Homo sapiens: one gene and its partners. The protein of the gene in region 7 purifies or fractionates together with the protein of the main gene of each other region. This does not show direct contact. Each region holds a gene or a part of one and is shown on either strand. Other genes may lie near its edges.

Region 1 (4,258 bases), on a different chromosome or scaffold from region 7:
GTGCTGGGATTATAGGCGTGAGCCACCGTGCCCCACCTGGGTTTTTATTTTTAATAGAGTAGCTCCTTAATTTGAAACCTGCTTCCCCTCTAATCCCCAACCCAGAAAGAAGAAGGGTTGTGTATGGTCCATAAACAAACTTCTCAACTATTAAGTCAGGTGTTTGCTTTGTACTCTTTGGTATTTTTGTAGGTCTTTATGTTTTCTGTCAGATCCTCTCACTAACAGTTAATAATACAGATTGTATAAATGTTTTTGTGGTTTTTTTTTTGAGACAGAGTATCATTCTGTCACCCAGGCTGGAGTGCAGTGGTGCCATCTTGGCTTACTGCAACCTCTGCCTCCCAGCTTCGAATGAGTCTCCTGACTCAGTCTCCCAAGTAGCTGGGAATACAGGCATGTGCCATCATGCCTGGCTATTTTATTTTTTTGTGTTTTTAGTAGTGATGGGGTTTCATCATGTCAGCCAGACTAGTCTTGAACTCCTGACCTCAAGTAATCCGCCCACTTCGGCCTCCAAAAATGCTGGGATTACAGGCATATCGCAAGGTCAGGAGTTCGAGACCAGCCTGGCCAACATGGTGAAACCCCATCTCTACTAAAAAATACAAAAAAATTAGCCAGGCATGTTGGCGCAGGCCTGTAATCCCAGCTACTTAGGAGGCTGAGTCAGGAGAATTGCTTGAACCCGGGAGGCAGAGGTTGCAGTGAGCCGAGATCACACCACTGCACTCCAGTCTGGGTGACAGAGCAAGACTCTGTCTCAAAACAAAAAAAAGGGGGCAAAAAGTGGCTAAATTTCAAGCTCTTGATGGACTATGGAAAGATTATAATGGCCTCCACCAAATCCAAACATGGTAATTGCTCCAATAGCAAAAGTAGTTAAACATCTCTTAGAGCTTATGGTTTGCTTTACTCTGTGTATTTCACTTGTCAACAGTGTAAAAGCTGACAGCTTAATGGTGAAACTATCTTTAATATTGGCAGGGAACAAACTCTCCTAAATAACCTCTCCTTCCCAATTTAAATGCCAGAAGATTGGGAGTGCCTAGAAGTTGTGAGTGGCTTATCAAAAACTGTCAATATGTCCTTGGCTATGACATTTTTGTTTTATATCCATTTTCAGCATTGTCAGAGAACATTGTCCTTTAGGATTTCAGAGTTTCACCAAAACTTAAGTGGAGTTCAGCTAAACAGCTAAGAACAGTAAATGGTTTTAGGGTGGTTGACACGCACACTTCTTGAATTTCTACAGGGCCAGCCTTCTAGCCTTTAACAATTCAGGAAATCATAAACCATCACTTGTTCCTGCCAACTTCCTAATTCCTCTGGTACCATGCAGACAAAGAAACACTCTCTTCCAATCGCAAATAAAATCTTTTTTCTCTTTTTTTAGGTGGACTCTTGCTCTTGTCACCCAGGCTGGAGTGCAGTGGGGTGATCTTGGCTCATTGCAGCCTCAGCCTCCCGGGTTCAAGCGAGTTGCCTGCTCAGCCTCCCAAGTAACAGATTACAGGCACCTGCCACCACATCTGACTAATTTTTGTATTTTAGTAGAGACAGGGTTTCACCATGTTGGCCAGGCTGGTCTCAAACTCCTGACCTCAGGTGATCCACCCATCTCGGGCTCCCATAGTGCTGGGATTACAGGCGTGAGCCACCATGCCCTGCCAGTAAAGTCTTTTTTTTTTTTTGAGAGGGAGTCTCTCTCTGTCGCCCAGGCTGGAGTGCGGTGGAGCAATCTTGGCTCACTGCAGCCTCAGCCTCTAGAGTTCAAGCGATTCTCCTGCTTCAGCTTCCCAAGTAACTGAGATTACAGGCACCTGCCACGTCTGGCTAATTTTTGTATTTTAGTAGAGATCAGATTTCACCATGTTAGTCAGGCTGGTCTCAAACTCCTGACCTCAGGTGATCCTCTCGCCTCAGCCTTGCAAAGTGCTGAGGTACATACAGGCTTTAGCCGCCGCCGCTGGCCTTACTTTATGCCCTTTTTACCACCATGAGGAGAGTAAAGAATTTCTGTCTTGGAGGCTTGATTTGAAGTTAGTGGTTGGGTTAGAAGGGATAGGATACTAAGGTGTACACTGCTCCTATGAAATAAGAGTTGTGGAGTAAAATCATGTGTGACTTCCTCAAGGAAAAGCACTTGAGGCTGGGTACAATGGCTCACACCTATATTCTCAGCACTTTGGGAGGCCAAGGCAGGCGGATCACCTGAGGTCAGGAGTTTGAGACCAGCCTGGCCAACATGGTGAAACCCTGTCTCTGCTAAAAATACAAAAATTAGCCGGGTGTGGTGGCAGGCACCTGTAATCCCAGCTACTCAGGAGGCTGAGGCAGGAGAATTGCTTGAACCCGGGGGACAGAGGTTGCAATGAGTCAAGATCACACCATTGCATTCCAGCCTGGGGGACAAGAGTGAAACTCCATCTCAAAAAAAAAAAAAAGGCCAGGAGCAGTAGCTCACGCCTGTAATCCCAGCACTTTGGGAGGCCGAGGTGGGCGGATCACAAGCTCAAGAGATGGAGACCATCCTAACCAACGTGGTGAAACCCCGTCTCTACTAAAAATACAAAAATTAGCTAGTCATGGTGGCACACTCCTGTAGTCCCAGCTACTCGGAAGGCTGAGGCAGGAGAATTGCTGGAACCCAGGAGGCGCGGGTTGCAGTGAGCTGAGATCACGCCACTGTACTCCATCCTGGAGACAGAGTGAGACTCTGTCTCAAAAAAAAAAAAAAGAAAAAAGAAAAGCACTTAAACCCTAGATAATCATGAGCTGTGTAGTTCCTTTTGCTTCAGACTAGAACATTTTTAAAATGGTCATCGCTCACCTATATGATTTTATCATGTGCACAAATGATTTAGACATAACTTTACAGCTGCTTACCTGACTTTTTCTCCCCCTTAACGGCTCAGGGAGATCCAGAGGATACAGTATTGGAGCATTTTTGCTTGGGACTTTTATAGTAGGGACAGCTTCATCAGTCTGTGATTCTGATTGCTTTGTTCTTCCCAGCAGAGCCCTACCTGTAACCTGCAGTAATCTGTTAACTCCAGTAGTAGGGATTATTGTTGATATATATATATATTTTTTTGAGATGGAGTTTCGCTCTTGTTGCCCTGGTTGGAGTGCAATGGCGCGATCTCGGCTCACTGTAACCTCTGCCTCTGGGGTTTGAGTGATTCTCCTGCCTCTGCCTCCTGAGTAGGTGGGATTACAGGCACCCGCCAACACGCCCGGCTAATTTTTGTATTTTTAGTAGAGACGGGGTTTCGCCATGTTGGCCAGGCTAGTCTCAAACTCCTGATCTCAGGTGATCTGCCCACTTCAGCCTCCCAAAGTGCTGGTATTACAGGCGTGAGCCGCCACGCCCGGCCTGTGGATGTTTTTTTGATCTGTGTTCTGTTGTGTACAGTGTAAGCCATTTGTAGGCTGATTTCTTTCCTAGTTCTTCCTCTTAGTGAAAAGTAAAGCAGTTTAGATCATGTTGAATGATAAACTGAAATTTAGAAATGCAAACATAGAATACAATGTCAGAATATCACCAGGTGCCATTTTGGTTGATATTTTATAAATAGGGAGATATTTTTCTGTTTACTCTCCATAGGGATTTTGACACTTTCCACCCACCCCTTTTTCCTTTTGTCACCTTGGTATATTCTGCCAGAAAACTGACATCAGAATGTCATTGCTTCTGATCGATTTATTTCTGCCATGACACTCAAGCCCATTGTCAGTTATAATTAACTAGTCTAATAGGTATCCAGTTTCTGATATTAATTGATAATGTGTACTTACACGTTAGCGTTGAATATCAAAATAGTACGTTTTGCTTATTAATGTCTGTGGGCTTTTTTAGGTTAATTTAAAACTCTTCTGATTAATACCTTTGCTCAAATATGTGCTACCTAATAGCTATTAAATATTTTATTAGCCTGTTTTTCTTGGATAATAAAGTGGAAACTATAGCCTGTGAAGTGAACAACAGAGATAATACCAGGCCAGCTAGCAAACTGGGGAGAGGGAAGGTGGTAATTTTATCCTTTAAATTGTTCTCTCCTAGAATGTTATTTATTATTTTTTTGAGACAGAGTCTTGCTCTGTCGCCCAGGCTACAGACCAGTGTAGTGCAGTGGTGCGATCTTGGCTCACTGCAGCCCTTGCCTCCCAGGTTCAAGCGATTCTCCTGCCTCAGCCTCCTAGGTCACTAGGATCACAGGCGTGCGCCACCACGCCCAGATAATTTTTGTATTTT
Region 2 (4,258 bases), on a different chromosome or scaffold from region 7:
TTCTCATTAGGTTTGAAATTATTTCAAAATGTTAAATGAGAACTCGTGACAACTTCGCTGTCTAGCAAAATACCTGGCTCACTGGAAGTGCTCAATAAAAATAATCTGGCCTTCCCTTGCTAAAGAAGGGAAGCTGCCAAAGAAGAAATCCTAGCATCATCTTCAACTCTTTCCCCCCATGTCCAAATGGACTCTCAGGTCTAGTGAAACTACTCAGTTTTCAGTTCTAATCTCATATCTATATTGCCCTATTTCTGGTTCCTATCATCCCTCCCCTGGACCACTGCAACAGCATCTGGTCTCTCTGCTCCATTTCTAACCTCATCCTTGCATTATCCTTGTAACTTTGCATCATTATCTAGAAGTCAGGAGTTACCTTTCAAAACCTGCATCTAATCTTATCATCCCTTATTTAAATACCTCTAAATTGTTCCTGAATGTTAATGCTGATTTCCCAAGAGGCAGACTAAATGCATGTTTAGGGCACCAGTAACGCAAGGGCACCAAAGAGATATTTCACACACACACACACACACACACACAGACACACACACACACACACACACACACACACACACGCGCGCACATGCGCATACACCAGTGAAATGGGGGAGGCAGCGGGTAAAGGGAGGGAAAAAGAGAGAGAAAGAGGAAGGTGACTTAAGAATTCTTAAGTTTACCTTAAGCTTACTTTAGGATTTGATATTTATTTCTGATTCCATAGTGGATGCCAAGGGTGAGTAGGAACCATAAACTTTCTAATACTTACAGTCTCTAAAACAGTGGTTTTCCCAATCCTTTTCCCAACTTGGCAACAAAGAAAATAATAATTTCTTAGCACGTTGGGATAAGCCACAAATGCTATTCAAAGCCAAAAGAAACCATCCTGGGGCAGGGTGGGGAGGGGGATCTGATATGCCCAGGTCCCATTAAACAAGGGTATCTTGCTCTCCGAAACACTGGTAAACCATTCATGGCACACCAGTTGGGAAGCTCTATTTTAAAGGTCTTAAAATGATCCCACTCATTGCCCAAACACAAGGACCCTCACAAGACTTCATTTCCCACTGCAATCAACGCACATGCGCGCGCGCACACACACACACACACACAGATTCACACACAGGAACAGACAACCACACCCACCCAGACAGAGACAGACATATCCAACAAGACAACTTACATTTCTCCAAACACACCACACATTCTTTCATACTTTGACTTTTTCTATATGCTGTTCTCTCTACCCAGATCAATTCCAAATGATCCTCCAAGACCATATTCAAATGCCACTTCTTTTCCCCAGATCTTATTACACTGTCACTATGAATTGTTAATTGTTTGTTGACATGTGTTACCACCCTAGAATTTGAGCTCAAGGACAAGAATCATGTCTTATTTACCTTTATACCACTGCTCCCACTACAATGGGCATTTCAAATGTTTGCTTAACATATAAAGGAATGTTCATTACATCATCACCAAATAAATTTTCAAATTACATTAATTAAAACAATGAAATACAATTATAAAATTAGCATTTTTTTCTTCCCAAAACAAGAACAACCACTGTAGGTACTTCTGTAAGAGAGAGATCTGGCACAGAAATATTCATGACACTTGACCATTATCCCAGTCCTAGGGTTTTAAACTGAGGAAATAAACAAAAAACCGCTTAACAAAATGTAAATGTCTAAATCAGTTATGGTATATCACCTGAATGTTTAACTAATCACTTAAATTATATTCATTGACCTTGGTGGCTTTGGGTAGCTAAAATAAATAAATAATATTCATGAAGATGGGAATAGAAAAATGAAAAAATAATACCAACTATCACTGACTGATCATCTCTTGTATTTAAAGCACAGCGCTAGATGCCTTACATATAGTATCTTAATCCCCACAATTCAAGACCACCTGACTCAGAAATGAGACACTTTGCCCAAGGCTTTTGACGCTAGATTCCACACCAGATTTGACTCCTGACTCAGAAATCAGACAGTTTGCCCGAGGTTTTTGACGCTAGATTCCACACCAGATTTGACTCCAAAGTCTGTGATCTTTCCCCTACATTGCACAGCCTCCACCATACAATGTTCCCATTATATTCCTCTCAAAATTCTCTCTACCACACAACTTTATTTTTTAAATATGAACAATTACCTGGAAAGAAACAAAAAATAGCTATTATGGTGGTGATCAAGGGTAAACGTTGTTACAGTATTTATCCTTTTTAAAAATTAGCAACTTTTAAAAGTAGCATTGTTGAAAAATGAACTAAATTCATAAGACAATACAAAAGACGCTATTCCTATTTTAATTTTTTTAACCTAAGAAAATTAAGGAAACAGAGTAGGTAACATAAAAACTTAAGAAAAAAAAAAAGCTTAAGAAGATATTAAACTATATCTAAACAAGCATATATTAACCTTAGGGTACTTATTACCAGGATTCATTAACTGATCCTTGTGAGTGGATTAAGCAGCATTCTTCCAGAAACAGGTGAATTTTGAAAAAGGTTTAAAGAGGAGGCACATGAATTGGAGACAGAGATGTTTAAATTATGGAAACGAGGACAAAGGAAAAAACAAGACTATTTTCTTTTTAAGCACGAATGAGAAACAAGGTTAATGAGATGAAGTTGGTAGAAAGTCTTCAAGGTCAAGCAGGTAAATTTGGGATTAATTTGATAAGCACCGGGGAACTCCTATATATTTTTAAACGGGAAGGTGGCATGTTAAAATATGGCCTTTAAAGATTCAAACTTTGTTCCATCATAAAGTACTGCCTTGAGTTACACAATGTTTTTGCCGAACAGTTGGGGAGGTGGGGAATAATCCACTATCCTTTATGTGTGCTTTATACATACGCTTCTCAAAAAGAGAAACTGACTAAACAGAAATCTTTAGGTAATGGGTGAGCATATTGGGGAGGGGATCCTTTCAGACATAATGCTTGTGAATATTGAATGCTACTGTATGTTTTAATAACAGTCACAGAACTTCAGGCAAGAAGGAACCTTGGAGATAATCTCTTAGTGGCGACCCCTTCATTTTCACACCAGATTAGACTGAAGCCCAGAACTAAACAACTTGCCCAATGCCATGCATAAACCAGTGGAAGATTAAATACTACAACTCAGATTTTCTAAGCAGTCAGACCTAAAGCTATGCTCTCCAATACTATAGCTACTAGCCACATCTGGCTATAAATTTAAATTGATTTAAATTAAATACAATTTTAAATTGAGTTTCTCAGACACACTCGTCACATTTTAAGTGCTCCATAGCCACACATGATTAATGGCTACCATAACTAACAGTGCAAAAAATATTTCTATGATATTTGTCAATTATACTTCAATAAAGTTGAAGGAAAAAAGAATATTTCCATCATTGCAGAAAGTTTAATTGGACAGAACCGATCTAAAGAATAAGTTTTAGAGAATTCCACTTACTAGAAGTATGAGCCTAGACAAGTTATTTCATTTCCCTTAGCTTCTATTTGGCAGGGAGAGGACAGGGGATTAATAATACCTACCTCATAAAGCATACTTGGTGAGTGGGACAACATGAAAAGCCCCTTATACAGGATCTGACACTTAACAGACAATAAATATTAACACTCTTCCCCTCTGGGTCCTTTTTTCTTTCTACTACTCTATATAACCTCCTTGTTAAAAAATACAAACACAATAACCAACCCAAATTGATATTTTCCTCATGATAGTCTATACGATGTAATTTTCATTTTGTTCTTACTAATTAATTCAAATACTTGCATCTCTCTTCCAAAGTTTCTACTTAAGAATAATGAAATGAAGAATGAATGTGAGGGAAGATATCTCTAATGAAATGAAAGAGTCTAATAAATTTCCCCTCCTCTTTTTCCCCATTCATGCAAAAGATAAGAAATTATGCTGTTCCTAGACAATGGTACTTTCATATCAATAAAGAAGATTCTACGGTATTTCTACATTATATCCTATCTCATCATCTATACTACTCATTAAATATTAAATGAAGAGATAACACCTCCTTCCTACAGTGCTTTCCTGGCAAACAATAAAAAGGATTTTCAGAATGCTAAGCCAAACTTCAAGGCTTCACAGCTTATTCTAGTAAACTGGCAAATTTAACAAATCTGGATTATAGTACATAAAAAACTTCATAACATGCAATAACCCAGGAAAACAACAAAATTCAACTCAGTTAGTAAACTTCTACCAATAACTAAATTTTACATAGGAGCAACA
Region 3 (4,684 bases), on a different chromosome or scaffold from region 7:
GAACTGGCAGACAAACTCACAACTCAGCCCCAGCCCTCCAGATGCACAGGATCTCTTTAGAGAAACTAAGCGTCAAGCAGTGTGGCATCGTCAACAACTCGCTTGCTTGGGTATGCTTTTGACAGATGCCTGTTGCCTTGCAGGGCCCCCCATGGGTACTTCAGGCCTCTCAAATTACAAAGCTGCTTCACAAAACCTTCTTCGAAACCTGAATAAAGCCCAGGACTCTCCCCACCAACCTTCATCAGCATTAGTATTGACGGGACACTCTAAGGAGTCAAGCAGCCAAATCACCTTTCCCTCCCCTCTCCTCACAGATGCTCTCCAGGGCTACACTTGGACTCCACAAAACACCAAAGAGCTGGAAGCACAGAAGCAGCTTCATAAGCAACAAGGCAGGTTGAAAAGACCGAGACCCAGGGAACACCGAGTCCAGATGATGTAGCCTATAAAATACAAGCCCCCGCAAAAGCTACTATTCTCCAGAGCGTCACCAAGCACGGAGACCCCGAAAGAAAGCAACCCTCACCTTTGTTGGCCCTTACCACTGGCCTAAACCTCTCCCTCTTCCCTGGAGAGCCACTGTGGAAAGACCAAGTCTTAAGTATGTGGGATTCAGAAGGTGCAAAGCTACAGACTGCTCAGACAAGGCAAAGAAAGCTGCCTCAGCAGCACCCAAGCTGCAGAGATGCACAAACACTCCCAAGGCCACAAGGTACCTGTGACACAGGGTGCCAGCCCTGCTGCTGCCTGTAGCATCCTCAAAACTAAATCGCAGCCATCTCCCTGTGACAGATTAGAAAATGAAGGCCTCGGCCTGGCCCAAGGTCACAGCCTGAGTGACAAGCCAGGGAAGGGGGCCGGGGAAGACACTCTGGCCCCAAGGCCCTTCTTTTTGTCGACTTTTCCACATACAAGTAAGTCCTTAAGGCACCGGTTCCTGAAAAGTCCCAGACACCAACCCTCGGCCTAGTTCTGCCGGTGGACAGATCTCAACGATCATACTCGCTCTGACAGGACAGACCAACCGAGCACTTGTCACGGGAGAACACCAAAGCAGACGGCCTGCCCACCAAGGGAGGCAGGCACCTCCGTGCGACGCCCCCTCCCCTCCCGCCGGCCGCAGGGAACGCGACGGTCCTCGGTCGCCTGCGTTTCGCGAAGACGCCCCCGCCCGGCTCCTCCGGGCCTCGAGCCGCGGGAGGCGCTGGACCCTCCGCTCTTTCGCCTCCCGAGCGGGGCCTGCTCCTCCAGGTCGGATGCGTCTCCCACCAGGGCCTGACGCCGCTCCGACCGGCCCGGGGACTCCCAGTCCTTCCCGGCCCGCGGTGGCACCTCCCAGGCTCCCGGCCTCGGCCCCGGGCTCCCAAATGCAGCCACTGCCTCCCTCGGCCAGGCCGCCCCGAGCGACCGGTGCCCCGCCCCTTGAGGCCAGGCAGGGCCAGGGGCGTGCGCCGCCCCGCTCAGACACCCCCCCGGCCGCCCGCGCTCACCGGTCCCGCAACCGCAGCCACCGCCTCCAGCCCCGCCTAGACCGTCCGCCGCTCCCCGCCCGGCGCCGCGGCGCCCCGCGATGACGTTGACGCCTCCCATTGGCTGCTTGTCCGAGGCCCGACGGACTGGCTGCCCAGGGGCGGTGGCCCCGCCCCCGGCCCGCCGCGCATCCGCATTGGCTGTCGGCCCCCGCGACGGCTGCGCGGGAGATTCGCTGGACGATCGCAAGCGCGGAGGCCGGGCGGGCGCGCGCGCCATGGAGCGGCTGCGGGACGTGCGGGAGCGGCTGCAGGCGTGGGAGCGCGCGTTCCGACGGCAGCGCGGGCGGCGACCGAGCCAGGTGCGGGCTGCCCAGGGGCCGAGGGGCTGAGGGCGCGGCCCGCGGCTGACGCGTTCCCTTTACAGGACGACGTGGAGGCGGCGCCGGAGGAGACCCGCGGTGAGCGCGCGGCGGGGCGGCGGGGGCGAGAAGACACCGGGTCGGCAGGGGCCCAGGCCCCACCCTGACCCCGCCTCCCGCTCGCCCACGCAGCGCTCTACCGGGAATACCGCACTCTGAAGCGTACCACGGGCCAGGCCGGCGGCGGGCTCCGCAGCTCCGAGTCGCTCCCCGCGGCGGCCGAAGAGGTACCCAGGCCCCGCCGCCCCAGCCTCCTCCCACTTCCCTGTTTGGCGGAGTGGCGGGAGCCACGGAGTCGCGGCCAGGCCGCCGTGGGGCACAGAACTTGGGAGGGGGACTGGGCAAAGTGAAGAAGGGCCGGGCCTCGCTCCAGGTGCGGGAGGGGTGGCTGGGAGCGCTTCTGCCGCCACAACAGCCTTTTCTGGCCTGTGCCCCTGTTGTCTCCTGCAGGCGCCAGAGCCCCGCTGCTGGGGGCCCCATCTGAATCGGGCTGCGACCAAGAGTCCACAGTCTACGCCAGGGCGGAGCCGCCAGGGCTCGGTGCCGGACTACGGGCAGCGGCTCAAGGCCAATCTGAAAGGCACCCTGCAGGTGAGGAGTGGGCAGGCAGTGAGTCCACGCTAGGTCCACAGCTGCTTCCGGTCCGGGTCGCCCTCTTGTCATTTTTTCCACACAGACAGGCACGGGCCCCTGTGCCAACCAGGGCACGAGTCTTCAGGGAGCTTCTCGGGGCCTTCGCCCTTGACTCCCTTTCTAGTCCAGCCTTGTGCTAATTAGCCTGCTCTACAATTGAGCGTGGGGACTCAGGTAGGTTTTAGAGTCTACAGTAGCTCAGGGGCCTGAGTTCCTCCTGCTGTTCTGTTGTTCCCCTCCCAGGCCGGACCAGCCCTGGGCCGCAGACCGTGGCCTCTAGGAAGAGCCTCATCTAAGGCATCCACCCCAAAGCCCCCAGGTACAGGGCCTGTCCCCTCCTTTGCAGAAAAAGTCAGTGATGAGCCTCCACAGCTCCCTGAGCCCCAGCCAAGGCCAGGCCGGCTCCAGCATCTGCAGGCATCCCTGAGCCAGCGGCTGGGCTCCCTAGATCCTGGCTGGTTACAGCGATGTCACAGTGAGGTCCCAGATTTTCTGGGGGCCCCCAAAGCCTGCAGGCCTGATCTAGGCTCAGAGGAATCACAACTTCTGATCCCTGGTGAGTCGGCTGTCCTTGGTCCTGGTGCTGGCTCCCAGGGCCCAGAGGCTTCAGCCTTCCAAGAAGTCAGCATCCGTGTGGGGAGCCCCCAGCCCAGCAGCAGTGGAGGCGAGAAGCGGAGATGGAACGAGGAGCCCTGGGAGAGCCCCGCACAGGTCCAGCAGGAGAGCAGCCAAGCTGGACCCCCATCGGAGGGGGCTGGGGCTGTAGCAGTTGAGGAAGACCCTCCAGGGGAACCTGTACAGGCACAGCCACCTCAGCCCTGCAGCAGCCCATCGAACCCCAGGTACCACGGACTCAGCCCCTCCAGTCAAGCTAGGGCTGGGAAGGCTGAGGGCACAGCCCCCCTGCACATCTTCCCTCGGCTGGCCCGCCATGACAGGGGCAATTACGTACGGCTCAACATGAAGCAGAAACACTACGTGCGGGGCCGGGCACTCCGTAGCAGGCTCCTCCGCAAGCAGGTAAGACAGCGACGGGCCAGGACAGGCATTCCCTTTCCCTCCCCTCAGCCCTCCCGTATTTCCCGCCCAGTGACCCTCCTATGTGGGCACCCCCCAGGCATGGAAGCAGAAGTGGCGGAAGAAAGGGGAGTGTTTTGGGGGTGGTGGTGCCACAGTCACAACCAAGGAGTCTTGTTTCCTGAACGAGCAGTTCGATCACTGGGCAGCCCAGTGTCCCCGGCCAGGTGAGACATCTGCCCTGGAGGGTGGGTCCGGCCAACACTGTGGAGAGGGCGCAGTGCTCTTTTGGGGGACACTTATGTTCCAAGCAACAGGCCTTCCAGGTACCCCTGGTCCAGGCCCTACCCTAGCTCCCCTGAAGGAGGGTGGCAGGGACGACGATGGCTGTCACTCTTTTCTGCTTTGGAAAAAGTAGCCCAGAGGAAGGGCACTGCCTGCTGCCAACCCCCTTTGGGGGAAGGAGAGGTTGTGGCCAGTGGTTGTCTTGCCCGACCTGGAGCTCCCATTCTACCCTCTCCTGCCTGCCCCAGCAAGTGAGGAAGACACAGATGCTGTTGGGCCTGAGCCACTGGTTCCTTCACCACAACCTGTACCTGAGGTGCCCAGCCTGGACCCCACCGTGCTGCCACTCTACTCCCTGGGGCCCTCAGGGCAGTTGGCAGGTGAGCAGTCAGCTTCTGGCCCAGAGCCTTCACTGAGGGGTTGGGGTGACTCAAGTCATGGTGATCAACATCTGTGTCTGCAGAGACGCCGGCTGAGGTGTTCCAGGCCCTGGAGCAGCTGGGGCACCAAGCCTTTCGCCCTGGGCAGGAGCGTGCAGTCATGCGGATCCTGTCTGGTGAGCGTGGCTGCCAGGGCTGAGGCTGGGCTGAGGCCAGGCTGCAGAACCCTGCTGCTGACTCCCGCCCCATCCAGGCATCTCCACGCTGCTGGTGCTGCCTACAGGTGCCGGCAAGTCCCTGTGCTACCAGCTCCCAGCGCTGCTCTACAGCCGGCGCAGCCCCTGCCTCACGTTGGTCGTCTCTCCCCTGCTGTCACTCATGGATGACCAGGTGTGCACACAGGGCCCTGGGCACACGTACACAGCCAAGAACCAGCACTTGTGACTCCCAAGGGCAACTGCTGCTTGTCCCCTAA
Region 4 (4,258 bases), on a different chromosome or scaffold from region 7:
ACAATCTATAAACCTACACTGCCACAACATTGTCACTCAAAGTCCATAGCTTACATAGGGTTCACCCTTGGAATACATCCTGGGCGCTGGACAAATTTATAATGACGTGTCATTATAGAATCATACGGAATCATTTCATTGCCCTAAAATTCCTGTGTTTTGCCTATTTATACCTCCTGCCCCTCTTAACTCCTGACAATCAATTATTTTTTATGGTACTCATATTTGCCTTTTCCAGAATCTCATATGGTTGGAATCACACAGTATTTAGCTTTTTCAGACTGGCTTCTTTTACTTAACATTATGCAGTTAAGTTTCATTCGTGTCTTTTCATGAATTGATAATTCATTTATTTTCTGTGCTGAATATTATTCCACTGTCTGTATGTACCACAGTTTATTTATCCATTCACGTACCGAAGGACATCGTGCTTGCTTCAAAGTTTTGGCAATTATGAATTAAGCTTCTATAGATATCTGCTCTTGGGCTTTTTTTTTTTTTTTTTTTTTTTTTCTGAGGTGGAGTTTCACTCTTGTTGCCCAGGCTGGAGTGCAACAGCGTGATCTCAGCTCACTGCAACTTCCCGGGTTCAAGCGATTCTCCTGCCTCAGCCTCTCAAGTAGCTGGGATTACAGGTGCCCGCCACCATGTCCAGCTAATTTTTTGTAGTTTTTGTAGAGATGCAGTTTCACTATGTTGGCCAGGCTGGTCTTGAACTCCTGACCTCAGGCAATCCACCTGCCTTGGCCTCCCAAAGTGTTGAGATTACAGGCGTGAGCCACCGCGCCCAGCCTGGCTCTTTCAATTAACACTTTATTCAGTTGATTTCAGTGTGTGCTATATCTTTCATAAATAAAATTATGGCTAGTGACCCACTCCTTACTAGTAAAATGTGCATTTGGAGTGGTGATCCACATATATACTTTCAACCAGTACACTTTGGAAACATGGCTTGTTACTTTTTACCATGTAGTGGCTGGAGATGTGATTTCACAATGTCACAATCCTTTATCTGTAATTCCAAAATCCAAAAAGTTCTGAAAATTGTAAGCAACAAGTGATACCTGATGACTAAATTAATGTCATCAGTCTTTACAGTCTCTGAATATTTTGTTTTGCTACAGAAATATTAATGTGTTTGAACAGGGGGTGTTGCCCCAGATCCACAAAGAAGTATTACAACGTAATATACTCTACATGCACTGAATTTGCTTTCTAAAATCTGAAAAGTTTTGAATTTTGAAACACACCTGGCCACAAGAATTTCATTAAGTTATAAGGAAAATAACAACTTTAATTGACCCTTACTGGAATTAAACTAATGATCATGGCTTCACACATCAGGGTCTAATAACTAAGACAAATGGCAGCAGCAAAGGAAGAACTTCGTAAACAGGTTTAAGAAATAAAATGAAGGCGAGAATACAGGTGCTCATTGAGTTACAGTAGGATTGTATCCAGATAAACCCGCTGTAAATTGAAAACATAATAAGTCAATTTACAATACTTTCAATTTATGATGGGTTTATCGGGATGTAACCACCTTGTAAGTCAAGAGTGTACTGAAAGCATACAGCTTTCCCACTGTCGCAAAGTTGAAAAATCATTAAGTTGAACCATTGTTAAGTTGGGGGCCCCCTGTATTCCCAAAGTTGATTATTTGGGAAAATCTAGCAGATTTAAGGAAAAACAAAAAAATGAAAAAGTCATACCCATAAGCCTTAATCTCAAGGGATGTGGAAAATCAGCATCAATTTCTGTTTTTAGCAATTCCTTAGCAATGGCAAATATTTCTTCTGCAGTAGAAACAACAGATGAAACTGTAGATGCACGAGTTTTTACTTCAAAATTCACATTCTTCAACTTAATGGTAACAGTTCTACCCTATAACATATACAATATGTTATTTATTTATTTATGAGACAGGGTCTCTCTCTGTTGTCCATGCTGGAGTGCGCTGGCACAGCTGTAGCTCACTGCAGCCTTCAACTTCTGGGTTCAAGCAATCCTCTTGCCTCAGCCTCCTGAGTAGCTAAGATTACAAGTGCGTGCCAGTACACCAGCTAATTTTTTATTTTTTTGTAGAATCAGAGTCTCACTATGTTACCCAGGCTAGTCTCAAATTCCTGGCCACAAGCGATCCTGGCCTCCCAAAGTGTTGGGATTATAGGCATGAGCTACTGCACCCAACCAGAATACATTATTCTGTATGACTTCCTAACTTCTAGAAAAAAGTCATTTACATGTTAGAAAAATTCAGAAAGGTTTACGGACATAAGAATATGGAATTATAACCAATTATTTATAAAACATGGTGATAAACATATCATAAAGAATAAGAGGCCGGCTGCAGTGGCTCACGCCTGTAATCCCAGCATTTTGGGCGGGCGGATCACGAGGTCAGGAGTTCAAGACCAGCCTGGCCAACATGGTGAAACCCTGTCTCTAATAAAAATACAAAAATTAGCTGAGCGTGATGGCAGGCACCTGTAATCCCAGCGGCTGGGGAGGCTGAGGCAGGAGAATAGATTGAAGCCAGGAGATGGAGGTTGCATTGAGCCGAGATCACACCATTGCACTCCAGCCTGTGTGACAGGGCAAGACTCTGTCTCAGAAAAAAAAAGAATAATTAAAATACCATTTTAGCCAAAAACGTTTACTTCCCTTTCCAAACATAAGCTAAAATCCCATTTTATTTTGTTTTTGAGATGGGGGTCCCATTCTATTGCCCAGGCTGGAGTACAGTGGCATGATCGTGGCTCACTGCAGCTTTGACCTCCCAGGCTCATGCTATCCTCCTACCTCAGCCTCCCAAGTAGCTGGGACTACACACTCGTGCCACCATGCCCAGCTAATTTTTACATTTTCTTTGTAGAGACGTGATTTTGCTATGTTGTCCAGGCTGGTCTTGAACTCCTGGGCTCAAGCAATCCTCTGGCCTCAGCTTCCCAATGTGCTGGGATTACAGGCATGAGCCACTATGCCTGACCTAAAATCCCATTTTAGCCAGTAATTTTTATTCCCCTTCCCAACTGAATTTTTTTGTTTGTTTTTTTTTTTGTTGTTTTAGACAGAGTCTCACTCTGATGCCCAGGCTGGAGTGCAGTGGCGGGATCTTGGCTCACTGCAGCCTCTGCCTCCCAGGTTCAAGTGATTCTCCAGCCTCAGCCTCCAGAGTAGCTGGGATTACAGGTGCCCGCCACCATTTTTAGTAGTGATGGGGTTTCACCATGTTGGCCAGGCTGGTCTCAAACTCCTGACCTCAGGTGATCCCCCTGCCTTGGCCTCCCAAAGAGCTGGGATTACAGGAATGAGCCACCGTGCCTGGCCCCCCAACTGAATTTTTATAAAAGACCATTACAAGAGGGAAAGGTTAAATGATCACTTTTATTTTTACTGAATCTCTTTTGGAGGTTGATTAATTACCTACAAAGGAAGGAAAAAAATCTTTCTAAAAGTGTCTCACTGAAAACGACTTATGAATAGTTCACACTTATTGTGTGCCTTCTGCATTGCCAGATGCTATGCCAAACAATTTAATGTAAGAATTCCCTTTACACTTAGTGTTTTATGAGTGCAGGGTTTCAGTGGAGACAATGAAACAGTTCTAGAGATGGGTGGTGGTGATGGTTATAAAACAATATGAACTGTACACTTAAAAATGGTTAAAATGTAAATTTTATGTTATGTATATTTTAGTATCCCCTGGAGGAGGAAGTTAATTCCTGCTCTCTCTCATCTGAGGGTAGTTAGATTTACTGACTTACTTCCAAAGGGAAAAACACTAACTTCACAGTGGAGAAGCCTAGCAAACACTAACCAAGTGATGAAGGTTAATATCAACCATGACATCATGTGGCTATTATACACCCCATGATAGGATGTTATGAGAAGGACACTTCCTCTTTGTGATACTCTTTCTAAAAATCCATAACCCTGATCTAATCATGAGAAAATCATCAGACAAACCCAAATTGGGCGACATTCTGCAGAATACCTGTATAGTACTACCCAACACTGTCAAGGTCATGAAAAAGAAGGAAAAACTAAGAAACTATCACAGACCAGGAAACTGGAGAGACATGACAGCTAAATGCAATGTAGTCCCCTGGACTGAATTCTGGAAGGCAGAGACGACATTAATGGAAAAATAAGTAAACTCCAAATAAAGTCTGGGGTTAATAATTGACAATGTATTAAATGTCAGTTTCTTATTTTTGACAAATGTACTCTGGTAATATGTTAATAATGGAGGAAA
Region 5 (4,258 bases), on a different chromosome or scaffold from region 7:
ACTTGTAATGGGCATATTAACTGGGTTAACAAGGTAAACGACACATGGATAACATAACACAAAGTGATTTTCCTCCAAATTTGGCATCTTATCTTTCAAGTACATGAACCCAACAATTAGTGTCATTTGTGAGAAAGTTTAGAGGGAACACAAAGTATGTATGATCCAAAAAGCAAGCAACTGCTGGGCACAGTGGCTCATGCCTTTAATCTCAGCACTTCGGGAGGCCAAGGCAGGAGGGTCGCTTGAACCCAGGAGTTCAAGACAAGCCTAGACAACATAGTGAGACTTCATCTCTACAAAAAAAAAAAAAATAATAACAGGCATGGTGGCGCTTGCCTGTAGTCCTAGCTGCATGGGAGGCTGAGGCAGGAGAATTACTTGTGCCCCAGAGGTCAGGGCTGCAGTGAGCCATGACTGCATCACTGCACTACAGCCAGGGTGACAGAGCAAGACCTTGTCTCAAAAAAAATTAATTAAATTAACAAAAAACAAGAAACTTTAAATATTTCTATTACAAATAAATACCAGTAAACATCTGAAATAATCTGCTGTCAAAAGAATCCCTTTTTAAACACTAAATGATCACTGTTCAGTTTAAAAGTATAGCTATACCTCTGGATTTTAGAAAAGGGGTTCATTCAACAAATCTTCATTATTTGATTTTACAAAGTATATTAAAATATTTGACATATTTCATTTACCTGGTTATGAAGCATAGGTCATAAAACATAAAAATTTAAAAGGAAATCCAATTTAAATGTTATACCATCGGCTGGGCACAGTGGTTCACGCCTATAATCTCAGCACTTTGGGAGGCCAACGCGGTCAGATCACTTGAGGTCAGGAGTTCGAGACTAGCCTGGCCAACATGGTAAAAACCCTGTCTCTACTAAAAATATAAAAATTAGTCTGGAATAGTTGTGCATGCCTGTTGTCCCAGCTACTCAGAGGGCTGAGGCCTGAGAATCTCTTGAACCCAGGAGGTGGAGGTTTCAGTGAGCTGAGATCGTGCCACTGCACTCCAACCTGGGTGACAGAGCAAAGCTCCCTCTCAAAAAACAAAAAACAAAAAACAAACAAAAAAAAAGTTGTACCATCAAAGTTATCCAAGAAAAGCAAGTTAAATCATATGACCATTCTTATACTAAGTTTATTAATTTACACTTGCAAAAGAATGAAAGAAATGAAATTTCTGATTCCATTAAAAACTTCTTCCTCCCAACTTTTTATAACTAAAAACTTAAACCACACAAAGAGCCTAGGATGTGACTTTTTAATGACCCAAATGCCTTGAGTTAAGGATAATAATCCACTTTGGGATCCAGAAACAGAGTATTCATGCACTTTACAAGATTATACCTTATTTCATCTTCAGAGAATATTATTCCACCCAACCAGATATAGCAGCCCATCTGGAAAGGAAATTTATTACATGTTGCTTCCCTAACATGCTATGGCCAGCCACTTTCAGAAGCCAGAAGATTGTACTTCAAATTCATATTCCAAAGAGTGATCTCTTGATCAGCGGCATCGGCACCACTTGAGAGCTTGTTAGAAATGTAAAATCTAAGGTTCCCCTCCAGACATACTGTTAACGTGGTTTTCCTGTATTATTTCAGAATATGAAATTCTATTATAGAGGTAAACAAAACTAATGGGATGGATGAAACACTTAAGAAGTGATAATCATAGATGGTAAATAAACTAACAACTTATGAGACAGAGGCAACACTCAGGCTGGGCCAAGTATTGATAATGAGAATGCAAGCTGGTGAAATGAAGGCAGTCAGCAGATGCGTAATAAATAGGTAAGCTGGGAGTAAGACATGACAACAATAAAATAAATAGAAATTATGATAAAATGAATGAGATTTACTTATAGACAAAAAGCAGTGGAAATACCAAGTCACCATTATGCCTGGACTGATAGCTACATTACTTCCATATCAGTCATCTACTGAAGACACCAAGGATGGTCCCATGGCTCATCAGCAGGCAAACTAGCAAAGCTACGGCTGTACCTAAGTGTATTTGTCACATCTCTTCAACAGAACAAGTGTGTATCATCGACCCAGGAAATCATTAGTCTATGGAGTCTTGGCTCAAACATCAGCTCTGGTCCTCATAACCACATCATTAATGGGGAAGGGTTATGTGAAAGAAAGATGGGACATAGGAACATTGTTTATCCAGGACAGGTAGCGTGGTCCTTCCAACCTGGTTTGAACCTGAAGTGTGTTAACTTACTCCATAGCTTTCCTCTTGCTTCTGGATTTGTGTTTAACTGGTTTGGTAAATCATGTGATTCAAGCATTTTAATTTGTTTTCTGAGTCTTCTATTCCATAACCTCTGAGATAGCTTGCCTGCTGGTGTACTTGTAGCTCAACCATTGTATCAAGGTAATTTCCCATAGAATACCTACTGAATCAGAATCTTGATGCTAACAAGATCTCCCAAGTGATTCATATGCATATTAAAGTTTAAGAAGCACTGACAAAACTGTTATAAAGGAAGCCTCCGCAAAGACAAAAAGTTGGATCTCAACAGAACTATTCCCTGAAAACCATCCTGAACAAAAAAACTTCATATATCCATGAATGCCCTAACTATGACTCGGAGCCCCCAAAAAGGGAGAGAATACAAGAAGATCCATTTTCAACAACTATCATGTAAGGTTTGAAGAAGCTCTGGTGCCCTTGCTGATTATTTGAATTCTAATCCTGTAAAGCTCCATATGATTTGAGAAAACACAAAATATAGCACAATGTACCTCAATATTAACTCTGCAATATCCTTCTTACTGTGAGTTAGAAAAATCTTTTTCAGATATGCTGTTTCAAGAATAACAATCCATTGTAACACAATAGTATTTGAGGGGAAAAAAAAATACCAATCCAAAGGACATAAGAAACAGAGAAAGGTTGTGACTTCCTTAATGAGGCTGCAGCAACCTTAGAAAGATCATCAAAGCACAGAGTTGGGAACAGCCTGAGAGCTTCCTTAATGGGCTGTACACGTCCCACCGACCAGCAGCTCCTTACTTCATCAGCTCCTCATTTTATGTATTTGTTGTATTTGTTATATTTGCATTGTCCCTGACACATATTAGGGGCTCCATAAATGTTCTGAATTAGTAGAAAAAAATGACATGTCACCCTCTCTTGTTTTGATTCATCTAAGACAAATTTACTTTAATTCAATCCTTTCATTTTGAAAAATTCCTGAAAATGAAGGCATAATTCCATCTCGAATTAGCATGGTCCATAACATTCTCCCATGCCATATCTCAAAGTTGGATTTTAATTTGCTATTATTAATCCCATTCTAATATTTCATGACCCTATGAAACATAACAATCTATCTAATAAGAAATAACTGTCTGTGAAAGATAGGAAAGTCATACTAACTGATGGCTGGCAATACAGTCTGACCATTTTTAAAAATCAAGGTATATGTACAAGTACAAGGTATATGCTACACAGGAAAGATCAACTATTATTCTGATGTTTTTCTAAGTCCAGATTTAAGACATCTTATGGAAATATCTATGTAAAACATCTATAAAAAGAACTGAAGTAGTCACTGAGGACAATATTACACATACAAAGATGATAAATAAGATCTATAACAAAAAACTAAAGGTGCTAGGAATTTTTAACCTAGTACAGAATAAAGTGACAGCCAGGAAAAGAATGTAAAAGTTCTAAAAATCATTTATTTAAAGAATACATTCCCTGTTGCTTCTTTAAGAGGAAGTATGTTTAAGCTTCAAAGGAAAAGACTGAGGTTAGGAATTGCAACTTCCCATTCCATAAATAAAGTTTTATGAAAAGAATAAAGAAACACAGATAGAAAATGGTTGCATGTATTCCTTTCCAAATAATCTATCAAATCCCTTTCACTATATGCATTTAGTACAACCAAGTGCCACTAAAGGACTCACAGGACATTAAAAATTTTGGCATAGTTTTTTATACTGTTTTTTATGGATTTTAAATACAATGTGTTTAAGAATTGACTCTACAAACTCACAGAGGAAAGGGGTAACCTTACAGATTTTTGTGTCTTCTTCAGCTAACAGCATGAGAGAACACACATGATAAGCCTTCAATAAATACTTTAATTGGATCTAATAAGGTATTACCACCCTCTGCAGCAAAAAAAATCTTAATTGGAGAATAACCTAAACACTATGGCCACCACCATGACCAGTAGAAAGCAGCTCTCAAATTTTCCAAGTGAATCCACTTGCAT
Region 6 (4,258 bases), on a different chromosome or scaffold from region 7:
CGCCTGTAATCCCAGCACTTTGGGAGGCCGAGGCGGGCAGATCACGAAGTCAGGAGTTCGAAACCAGTCTGGCCAACATGGTGAAACCCCATCTCTACTAAAGATACAAAAAATTAGCCGGGCATGGTGGTGTGTGCCTATAATCCCAGCTACTTGGGAGGCTGAGGCAGGAGAATCGCTTGAACCCATGAGGCAGAGGTTGCAGTGAGCCGAAATCGCCCCATTGCACTCCAGCCTGGGTGACAGGGCGAGACTCCGTCTCAAAAAAAAAAAAAAAAAAAAGATTCTTTAAATAAAAAAAGTCAAAAATTATACAAGCAGGACTTGAGAACGGGAAAGACAATGAATGTGAATGACTCAAGTTTGAAAAACGCTGCCATATGGAGTATGTCATCTTGGAGGAGCTGGGCTGGTGGGGAATAAAGGGTAGGATTTCAACAGGCGGAAAGTGAGAATCTGGAGGGAACAGCATCAGCCAAGATATGTCTAGGAATACAGAGCATTTGAGTAAGTGAGGGCAGGCAGGGAGGAGGGGCTGGAAGGGAGGTTAGAGCCAGAAGCACTGAGCAGCACGTAGAGGCGATGACCACACGGGAGCTCATTTGTAAAGGTGGCTCAGTTATGGATGCACAGGCCTCAGCCCCCGGTAAGGTGAGCCTATGCCCCAGAGAGGATATCTGGGGAACACACACCACACCCAGGTACAAGCCAGCACCCCGATCTTGGACTATGCTCCCTGACATCAAACTCCTTTAAATAAGGATTATGTCTGCCTCTTTTTCTTTTCTTTTTTTTTTTTTTTTGAGATGGAGTCTTGCTCTGTCACCCAGGCTGGAGTGCAGTGGCGCGATCTCGGCTCACTGCAAGCTCCGCCTCCTGGGTTCACACCATTCTCCTGCCTTAGCCTCCCGAGTAGCTGGGACTACAGGTGCCCGCCACCATGCCCAGCTCATTTTTTGTATTCTCAGTAGAGGCGGGGTTTCACTGTGTTAGCCAGGATGGTCTCAATCTCCTGACCTTGTGATCCACCCGCCTCGGCCTCCCAAAGTGCTGGGATTACAGGCGTGAGCCGCTGCGCCCGGCCTATGTCTGTCTTTTTAAGATCAGTATTACCCAGAAAAAGACATGAGCCTGATTACTCCAGCAAGGATTTTCATTCAGTAAGCTGTGGGTTTTAAGAAGCCAAGGAGGGAAAGAGACAAGCTGACTATCCCGACTTCAGAGGGCGTTCTCGATGGTTATCGAGATGTTGCTGGCCCTTGTACTTCCCCAGAGAGGAGAATCCAGCCAAGCTGGTCAGCAAGAGCCTGGGGTGGGTCTGGAAGGAGAGCTTCCTGCAGTGAAGAACTCCGATGCTTCCAGGGCCACCTGCCAGATATGGGGCACAGTCCCCGCCTCTTCCAGGTGGAGATGAGGTGTTGAACTGGGCCCTTCTAAGAGGAGGGCAGGGGGCAGTGCCTTAGCAGAGCTTCTAACCCACGTAAGTGCCTTCAATGCCTTCCTTTCCTGCCACATTACCAAAAAATATACTGTTATTGTTGATGAGCTAGCCTGTCTCCCCACCGTAAGGGCAACCGCAAAATGGTCGTTTTCTCTCTCCTGATTTGCAAAAGCAAACAGCCAGCAGGGCGGAGGGGTTACTGCTCTGCAGTGATCACAGCTGGCTCTCTGCCAAATAAAGAACTAGAGTATACAATCCGATAAGATTCCAGGCTCAAAATTGTTTGAAGTTATTTAGATATCAAAATATTTAAATTTCCAGGAATCCTGATGGTTTATGGAGACAAAATGAGGCTACAGGAAATTTCATTTGTCCCAGAAATCTGGAGTACATAATCAATCACCTGTAGCGGGAAAAAAAGGGTGAATTTTTTTTTAAAGGGTCAGCACCTGAGAAGCTGCCCTATCAAATTAACCTACTTAATTCCTGAATTTGTCACTGGTCACTGTTTTTCATTTATAAAGCAAGGACTTTTTAAGAGAAAAATTAGCATCCCCTTTGTAGAAGGATGGAAATTACTGATGTGCCAGTGAAAGCACAGCGAAGAGTCTAAGTGTGCTCTCTTTGCTTCTGTTCTGAGGTTATTAGCTATAAAAGCTGTTTTGCCATCTGAAGATTCATATTCTACCCATAAGCTGCATCCCTAGTGGAAGGTAAGCTGGAGGTCACAACAGCGCAATCCAAAATGCCCTTCACTTACTAAACTCTTAAGTGAAAACACATCATTGAAAAGATGCTCTCTAGCGGAGTCTGACACGAGAATTTTTCAAGACCCAAACCACCATCAGCTCTGAATTTAAGATCAATTGGTTTTGCCCCAAGCCTTAGGAAGCTGCTCTAACTGAACTGTGTTTTAGAATCATCTTCAGCTTAATTGTCCACCATCTACTAAAGCTTCCTGGAGAAATTCCCTTCAGACATCAATGTGAGGAAAAGTTCTACTTCTTTTAATCAACTAGAATGGTTTTTTGTTTTTTTGGAAAGTATGAGATCTTCTAAGGTACTGTGTTTCCCATTCTGCTTTCAGAGCCAACTTCCCTAACTCTGAAGATTGAAATAGTACAGATTTCTGTATAAAACCTTTCCCCAGACCACTTGCTATTCTACCTTCATTTTCCTTTTACATGGATGTCTTTATTTTCATCTTGTTTCATATGGTTATGTATCCTTGTCAATCTGTTGCAAATTCTTTCTGGAAGAGGTAGGGGCACAAAACCAATCAATCAAAAGATCTGTTCCAGAAAGAAAGAACAGTATAAATATGTCACTCATAGGAGCACTGCCATCTGCACCCAAATATTCCTACGATCCTCATGAAATAAATGCTACTCCTATTGTTCTCTGCAACAACAGAGACAGTCTCTCAAAACCCAATCCATAACATACTCATATTTTTCAGAGGCCATCTATAAATCTAACAGATGGGTCGGGATGGTTTGATGGCCTATCCTCCCTCCCTTATGTAACTGTATCTCTCTCTTCCTCCACTGTACCTCTCACAGACATTCTCTTTAGCTGAACTGCAGGAATCCTCTCTCACTCTGACAGCTGAGGTTCCAGAGCAGCCCAGGTTGACCATAACCACAGCAGAAAGATTCTCAAGGCCCATCCCTGACTTGCTTTAAGCCACCAGACAATGGAAACCCCAAAGGACATGGAGTTACATCTTATTCAAGGGTTTCATTGACAAGTTAGCTCCTGATAGAAGTTAGGCACAGTCAAGATTTAAACCTGGCTATCCCTTAAGTCACTCGCCACATACATAAGGTTTTATGGCTACAACCTGTAATTTGTCCTGGGGCAATGTTTCTTCTGGGCCCTTAGTTAATTCTTCAGTATCTTTATTGAGCATGTTGAATCCTCTAACCTAATTGCCAAGCCAACTCAAAAATGTGCTGAATACTTTGTCAGTGGGAAGGACATCCTTCCAATCATTCCCACACCCCTTTTGTTGGGCTTGTTAACATGCCCAGGCTGCACTAGGCTGTGGGGTAGTCACTGCTGGTTCAGAATATAACCGTAGCCTCTGAGACTCAGGGGATATTTGGCAATATTTGATTGCCACATTTGTGACTGCCACAACTGAGCAAGTAAGGTTGCCATCTGGCTGGTAGAGGCCAGGGATGCTGGAAAACATCCTCCAATACACAGGACTAAGAATTAGCCAGGGCAAACTGTCAGAAGTGCAAGGTTGTGAAACTCTGAGCTAAGTTAAATGCAAATAAGATTAAAAGCCAGTAAGGCCAGACGCAGTAGCTCATGCCTGTAATCCCAGCACTTTAGGAGGCCGAGCTGGGTGGCTCACCTGAGGTCAGGAGTTTGAGACCAGCCTGGCCAACATGGTGAAACCCTGTTTCTACTAAAAATACAAAAATTAGCCAGGCGTGGTGGCAGGTGCCTGTAATCCCAGTTACTTGGGAGGCTGAGGGAGGAGAATCACTTGAACCCGGGAGGCGGAGGTTGCAGTCAGCCGAGATTGTACCATTGTACTCCAGCCTGGGCGACAAGAGCCAAATTCTGTCCGCCCCCCCTCCCCAAAAAAGCCAATACACATATCCACCATACTCCATTTTCTAGTGCCCTAAGAAGCACTCAGTATTCTGGCACCAATCACCCAAATACTGTCCTACTACTGTAAGAAAATACACTTGGAGATGCCTAGGTGGCATGAGGGGAGGAAAGCAAAGCTGAAATCATCAAAACCTTTGAAATGAACACTGCTTTTTTTTTAGAGAGGGAGTCTTGCTCTGCCACCCA
Region 7 (4,258 bases):
GGTTATCTGGGGGCTAGGGGATCACACAGGGCTATCTGGGGGCTAGGAGATCACACAGGGCTATCCGGAGGCTAGGGGATCACACAGGGCTATCCGGGGGCTAGGGGATCACGCAGGGCTATCCGGGGGCTAGGGGATACACAGGGCTAGGGCTCATCCAGGGGATAGGGGATCTGAGAGGAGACTTACTAGCTGTGTGACACTGAGAAAGTGACCTAACCCCTCTGTGTCTGCATGCCCCCATCTGTGAAATGGGGGACCATAGCACCCACCTCACCGAGCTGTCATGAGGATAAAAGGAGTTAATAGTGCAGCATGGAGCTCAGTTCCTGGCCGGAGGATGTGGGATGCAGTGCTAGCTGTCTGTCACCTGCAGGGCTCCGCCCAGGGCACTGGGGATAATTCTCGTAATCAGGCAGCTGCACTCCCTGACCTCCTGCTCTGTGTTTGGTCCTGTGTGGGCACCGGGGACAGAGGGCAGATCAGAAATGTGAGCCCCATCTTAGCCATTTCAGGCTGCAATCATGAAGTAACATAGATTGGGTGGCTTATGAAAATCAGAAATTTATTTCTCTTGGTCCTAGAGGCTAGAAACCCGAGATCGGGGCACTGTGGCAGGTTCTGGTGAGGACTTTCTTCCGGATTGCAGACTGCTGACTTCTCGTTGTGTCCTCACATGGCAGAAAGAGAGGGAGCTAGCCCTCGCCCGCCCCTTCTCGAGAGCTTGTTTGGAGGTTCTAGCAGGGGAGCGCAGCTACTCACATACCCTTGACCAAAGTCCGGTCCTCCTCTATCGGGGGTGGTCGCCCCCTTCGATGGAGCTCACAGCTTCGGGAGGGACACACCTGGAGCAGTGAGGGAGGAAGGGGACACACATCTAGCCAGCCAGATCAGCTAAATCAACCCTGGTGATCAGTGGAGTGACAGATGTCCCCGCCAGATCGCCCTCACATCCAATTAGCCTTTCTTATAAGAAGACTGATCCTACCCTGGGGACTCTACCCCCATGATCTCATTACCTCCCCTCCTAATCCCATCACAGTTTTCAGCAGGTGGATTTTTGGGGAACACACACATTCTGCTCATAATGAGCTCTGTCCCCAGGGAGCCCAGAGGCCAGTCAAGGAAAGGGCCCAAAGGTCCCCTGCCTTCTGGGAGCCTAGGGGAGTCGAAACAGCTGCAAGCTCATCGCTTCACTGGTGGGCTGACTTCTTCATCTCCCAGATTAACTTAACTGTAAGATGGGGACAGTAATGCCTGCTCTCCTCATATCCCTGGACTTGTGATGAGCTCGTGCAGGGTGTTGCAAACTGTAAGGTGAGGCAGTTGGGGGAATGCATGGACACAAGGGTATGTGCTTACAGTGGGGAGACATGGGCTCTGGAGTCTGCAGCGCTTGAGTTCCCTCTGGCACTTACCAGCTGTGTGACCTTGGACAAGCTGCTTCTCTTTGGGAGCCTCAGTTTTCCCAGTTGTTCAATGCAGATGATGAAAGTACCTCCTTCTAGTTCTGAGAATTCAAAAATGTAATGCACCTGGCACTTAGAATGTGCTTAATAAATAGGAGCACATAATCAGGGGTCAGGCAAGGCCCTGCTCATGGTGACATTCTGGGGATCAGTCCCAATGACCCTGCTGTCTCTTGATAGCCCTAAAGCTGCCCCAGACGGTGGCCTGGCAGGTACCCCTGGGTCACCGCACTCAGCACAGCAGAGCTGTGTGGCAGCCCCTCAGCCCCTTCCACAGGAAGTGTGGGATCCAAGGAAAGAAATGCTCCCTCTTACTTGACCCCTGAACTCACAGACACTCAGCTCACCCTCAGGGCGGGTGATCAGAGCGAGAGGTGGGTTTCGGGGTGGAGGGAACAAGAGGAGAATGGGGCATGGAGGCAGAAGGAGTGACCTGGGATCTGTTCTGTCTGTGCCAGGGGTCCTGGAGGAAGCCGAGTTCTACAACATCGGCCCGCTGATCCGCATCATCAAAGACCGGATGGAAGAGAAGGACTACACGGTCACCCAGGTCGGGAGCAGGGGCAGCACACACGGCCAGGGCAGGGGCCAGTGGGGAGAGAGAGGCTGAGAGACGGGGCGGGAAGCAGAGGAGGTTGGGAGAGACAGGACCAGTGTTTGTCATGGGGAGGCCGAGCTGGCCTGTAAGGAGAGGCATGGTTGGGCTGACAGGCTGCCCAGCACAGCCCCAGACTCGGAGACGGACACTGGGGTTCAGTCCCTGTCTCAGCCCCATTTGCTGTGTGTTGGGCCAGGCTCGCCCTCTCCGGACCTTGATTTTCTCTTATGGGATAGAGAGGGGTGGGAATGGCACACCCATCCCTTCCTCATAGGCAGAAGGGGGTCAGTGTGGAGGTACAGGGTGCCCTGCAGAGGAAAATGCAGGATTAGCAAATTGTGCCTTTTGTGGCATCAGATGGTCGCCTGGTGGGCTCGGCACAGGCTGTTGGGGCTGGCGTTTGTGACCTTGGAGCCTGGGCCTCCCTGGCCAGTCTGCAGGAGGAGGGAAAGAGATTTTCCGCCTACTCTGGGGGATGTGTGAGGGTTGGGGGACAGGTAGTGAGGAACCATTTCTCAGGCCCAGGGGATTAAAGAGGGGAGGCTCCGTGTCTCCTTGAGGGCCTGACTCCTTGAGGGTGACCCAGAATGTTCCCTAAGCCCCACCCATGTTCTTTCTTGAATTACCCGTGTTCCGGTTCTGTCTCCTTCACCCTTGAGCTGGGTGACCTTGGGCAAGTAACTGGACCTCTCTGAGCCTCAATGGAAAGTCCCGTAATGCCTAGGATTCTTGGAAGGATTAAGTGAGATGGTGCCTGGTAAATGCCTGGTGAGGAGCAGGTGCTCAGAGCATGGCTGCCTCCCCCCAACCACCTCTTCTTTCTCTCCCTCTCTTCTTCTTTGGGTATGTTGCGGGGGTGGTGGCAGCAGGTGCTCATGCCCCTCCTGGGGTGCCTGGTGCTCCCACAGGTGCCCTCTATGTGACCCTTCTGCCCACAGGTCCCACCCAAGCACGTGTACCGCGTGCTGCAGTGCCAGGAGGAGGAGCTCACGCAAATGGTCTCCACCATGTCTGATGGCTGGCGCTTCGAGCAGGTGCGCTGGGGACAGGGGCGTGCCACCAGGACAACCCTGGGACCTCCTAGCCTCTGACCAAGCAGGCCCCTCCCTTCCTGCAGCCCCAGCCTTGGGTTCCCCACCACAGTCTCCCCCAACCCCAGGGTTCTTCTGAAATCAAATTAAACAAGGTTAGGAGAGACCACACTTGGTGGCAGGTTGACCGAGAGAGAGGATAGGAGCCCCAGTGGCCATAGGACAGCACGGGGTGTCCTTGTTGGTGGGAGTCCTCACAGCAACTGGGTGGTGATCTATCTGGTGGCATGAGTGAGTCTGTGGCCCCCGAAGGACAGCTCAGGTGCAAGGAGACCAGATCCACATAGGTGAGTGGAGTCCACATTGAGTCAGTACCTCTTAGAACTCAGAGTCAGCATCATGCGATCATAGCAGTTCCTGACACAGTTTTCAGGGTCTCCGCAGGGGACATGCCCAGTGGCCAGCATTGCAACATGCAGGGGAGCCCAAAGCAGTGCCTTCCCATGAGGTCTTTATGGTGAACGGTGGTTCCTCCCAGTCCAGATGCAGTTTACCCATCGGGAGATCCTTATCCCGAGGGACTTTATCCCTAGTCATGCAGCTGACCTCCCACCTTTCAGGTTTCCAGAGGAGCAGAGCCAGAAAGTGAGCCCAGGGTCAAAAGTGCCTTTAGAGAAGGAGAGGGGGTTGGCTAGCCTTTCTCCACGCCCACCCACACGTTCCCTGGCACATGGAGACTGCAAGGCAGAAGGTCGGAGCCCCCAGGATGGCCTGGAGGGATGGAAGAATGGGCCTAGTGCAGAGCCAGAGGCCTGGCTTCACCTCTAGGCCTTGCCACAGACATGCCTGCCACCTTGGGCAAGTTACATCTCCTGTGCGGGACCCAGTTCCCTCATCGGTGAAGTGGGCTAACAGTACCTCCTCTGTAGGACTCTTGTGAGATTAGAAGGGCCATCAGTAAAGCTTACAGCCCTCCGTAGGACTCCCTATGTTGGCATTAGTGTCATGCAAATCATTAGAAATCCATATTGAAGTCTGCAACACTCAGAGAGGACTTGGGATCCCCGATGCCATTCCCTGCTCCACCCCTTCCTAGCTGTGAGGCCTTCAGCAGGCCTGAGATTCTCTTCAGGGTCCCTGAGAGCTGAATGAGACTCATC

What was found.
Region 1: the proteins of KCTD17 (region 7) and PIP5K1A purify together in Homo sapiens (affinity purification with mass spectrometry; 4 studies listed by BioGRID and IntAct, with this or other methods). This does not show direct contact.
Region 2: the proteins of KCTD17 (region 7) and PTPN4 purify together in Homo sapiens (affinity purification with mass spectrometry; 3 studies listed by BioGRID and IntAct, with this or other methods). This does not show direct contact.
Region 3: the proteins of KCTD17 (region 7) and RECQL4 purify together in Homo sapiens (affinity purification with mass spectrometry; 3 studies listed by BioGRID and IntAct, with this or other methods). This does not show direct contact.
Region 4: the proteins of KCTD17 (region 7) and POLK purify together in Homo sapiens (affinity purification with mass spectrometry; 4 studies listed by BioGRID and IntAct, with this or other methods). This does not show direct contact.
Region 5: the proteins of KCTD17 (region 7) and PPP1R9A purify together in Homo sapiens (affinity purification with mass spectrometry; 3 studies listed by BioGRID and IntAct, with this or other methods). This does not show direct contact.
Region 6: the proteins of KCTD17 (region 7) and ZMYND8 purify together in Homo sapiens (affinity purification with mass spectrometry; 3 studies listed by BioGRID and IntAct, with this or other methods). This does not show direct contact.

The regions. Positions count from the first base shown.
Region 1 is NC_000001.11:151,201,097-151,205,354, forward strand, and holds part of PIP5K1A (phosphatidylinositol 4-phosphate 5-kinase type-1 alpha), read left to right. Parts: intron 1-2,709; exon of another isoform or gene 2,710-4,258. UniProt on the Homo sapiens protein: Catalyzes the phosphorylation of phosphatidylinositol 4-phosphate (PtdIns(4)P/PI4P) to form phosphatidylinositol 4,5-bisphosphate (PtdIns(4,5)P2/PIP2), a lipid second messenger that regulates several cellular processes such as signal transduction, vesicle trafficking, actin cytoskeleton dynamics, cell adhesion, and cell motility.
Region 2 is NC_000002.12:119,762,770-119,767,027, reverse strand, and holds part of PTPN4 (tyrosine-protein phosphatase non-receptor type 4), read right to left. Parts: intron 1-4,258. UniProt on the Homo sapiens protein: Phosphatase that plays a role in immunity, learning, synaptic plasticity or cell homeostasis. Regulates neuronal cell homeostasis by protecting neurons against apoptosis.
Region 3 is NC_000008.11:144,514,851-144,519,534, reverse strand, and holds the start of RECQL4 (ATP-dependent DNA helicase Q4), read left to right. Parts: upstream 1-1,701; 5' UTR 1,702-1,750; coding exon 1,751-1,834; exon of another isoform or gene 1,835-1,899; coding exon 1,900-1,933; intron 1,934-2,026; coding exon 2,027-2,121; intron 2,122-2,344; coding exon 2,345-2,485; intron 2,486-2,770; coding exon 2,771-3,547; intron 3,548-3,644; coding exon 3,645-3,771; intron 3,772-4,077; coding exon 4,078-4,209; intron 4,210-4,292; coding exon 4,293-4,385; intron 4,386-4,462; coding exon 4,463-4,599; intron 4,600-4,684. UniProt on the Homo sapiens protein: An ATP-dependent DNA helicase which unwinds dsDNA with a 3'-overhang in a 3'-5' direction. Does not unwind more than 18 bp of dsDNA. May modulate chromosome segregation. The N-terminal domain (residues 1-54) binds DNA Y-shaped DNA better than ss- or dsDNA.
Region 4 is NC_000005.10:75,591,504-75,595,761, reverse strand, and holds part of POLK (DNA polymerase kappa), read right to left. Parts: intron 1,885-4,258; coding exon 1,713-1,884; intron 1-1,712. UniProt on the Homo sapiens protein: DNA polymerase specifically involved in DNA repair. Plays an important role in translesion synthesis, where the normal high-fidelity DNA polymerases cannot proceed and DNA synthesis stalls.
Region 5 is NC_000007.14:94,913,631-94,917,888, reverse strand, and holds part of PPP1R9A (neurabin-1), read right to left. Parts: intron 1-4,258. UniProt on the Homo sapiens protein: Binds to actin filaments (F-actin) and shows cross-linking activity. Binds along the sides of the F-actin. May be involved in neurite formation. Inhibits protein phosphatase 1-alpha activity.
Region 6 is NC_000020.11:47,241,033-47,245,290, forward strand, and holds part of ZMYND8 (MYND-type zinc finger-containing chromatin reader ZMYND8), read right to left. Parts: intron 1-4,258. UniProt on the Homo sapiens protein: Chromatin reader that recognizes dual histone modifications such as histone H3.1 dimethylated at 'Lys-36' and histone H4 acetylated at 'Lys-16' (H3.1K36me2-H4K16ac) and histone H3 methylated at 'Lys-4' and histone H4 acetylated at 'Lys-14' (H3K4me1-H3K14ac).
Region 7 is NC_000022.11:37,054,393-37,058,650, forward strand, and holds part of KCTD17 (BTB/POZ domain-containing protein KCTD17), read left to right. Parts: intron 1-1,927; coding exon 1,928-2,019; intron 2,020-3,005; coding exon 3,006-3,101; intron 3,102-4,258. UniProt on the Homo sapiens protein: Substrate-adapter for CUL3-RING ubiquitin ligase complexes which mediates the ubiquitination and subsequent proteasomal degradation of TCHP, a protein involved in ciliogenesis down-regulation.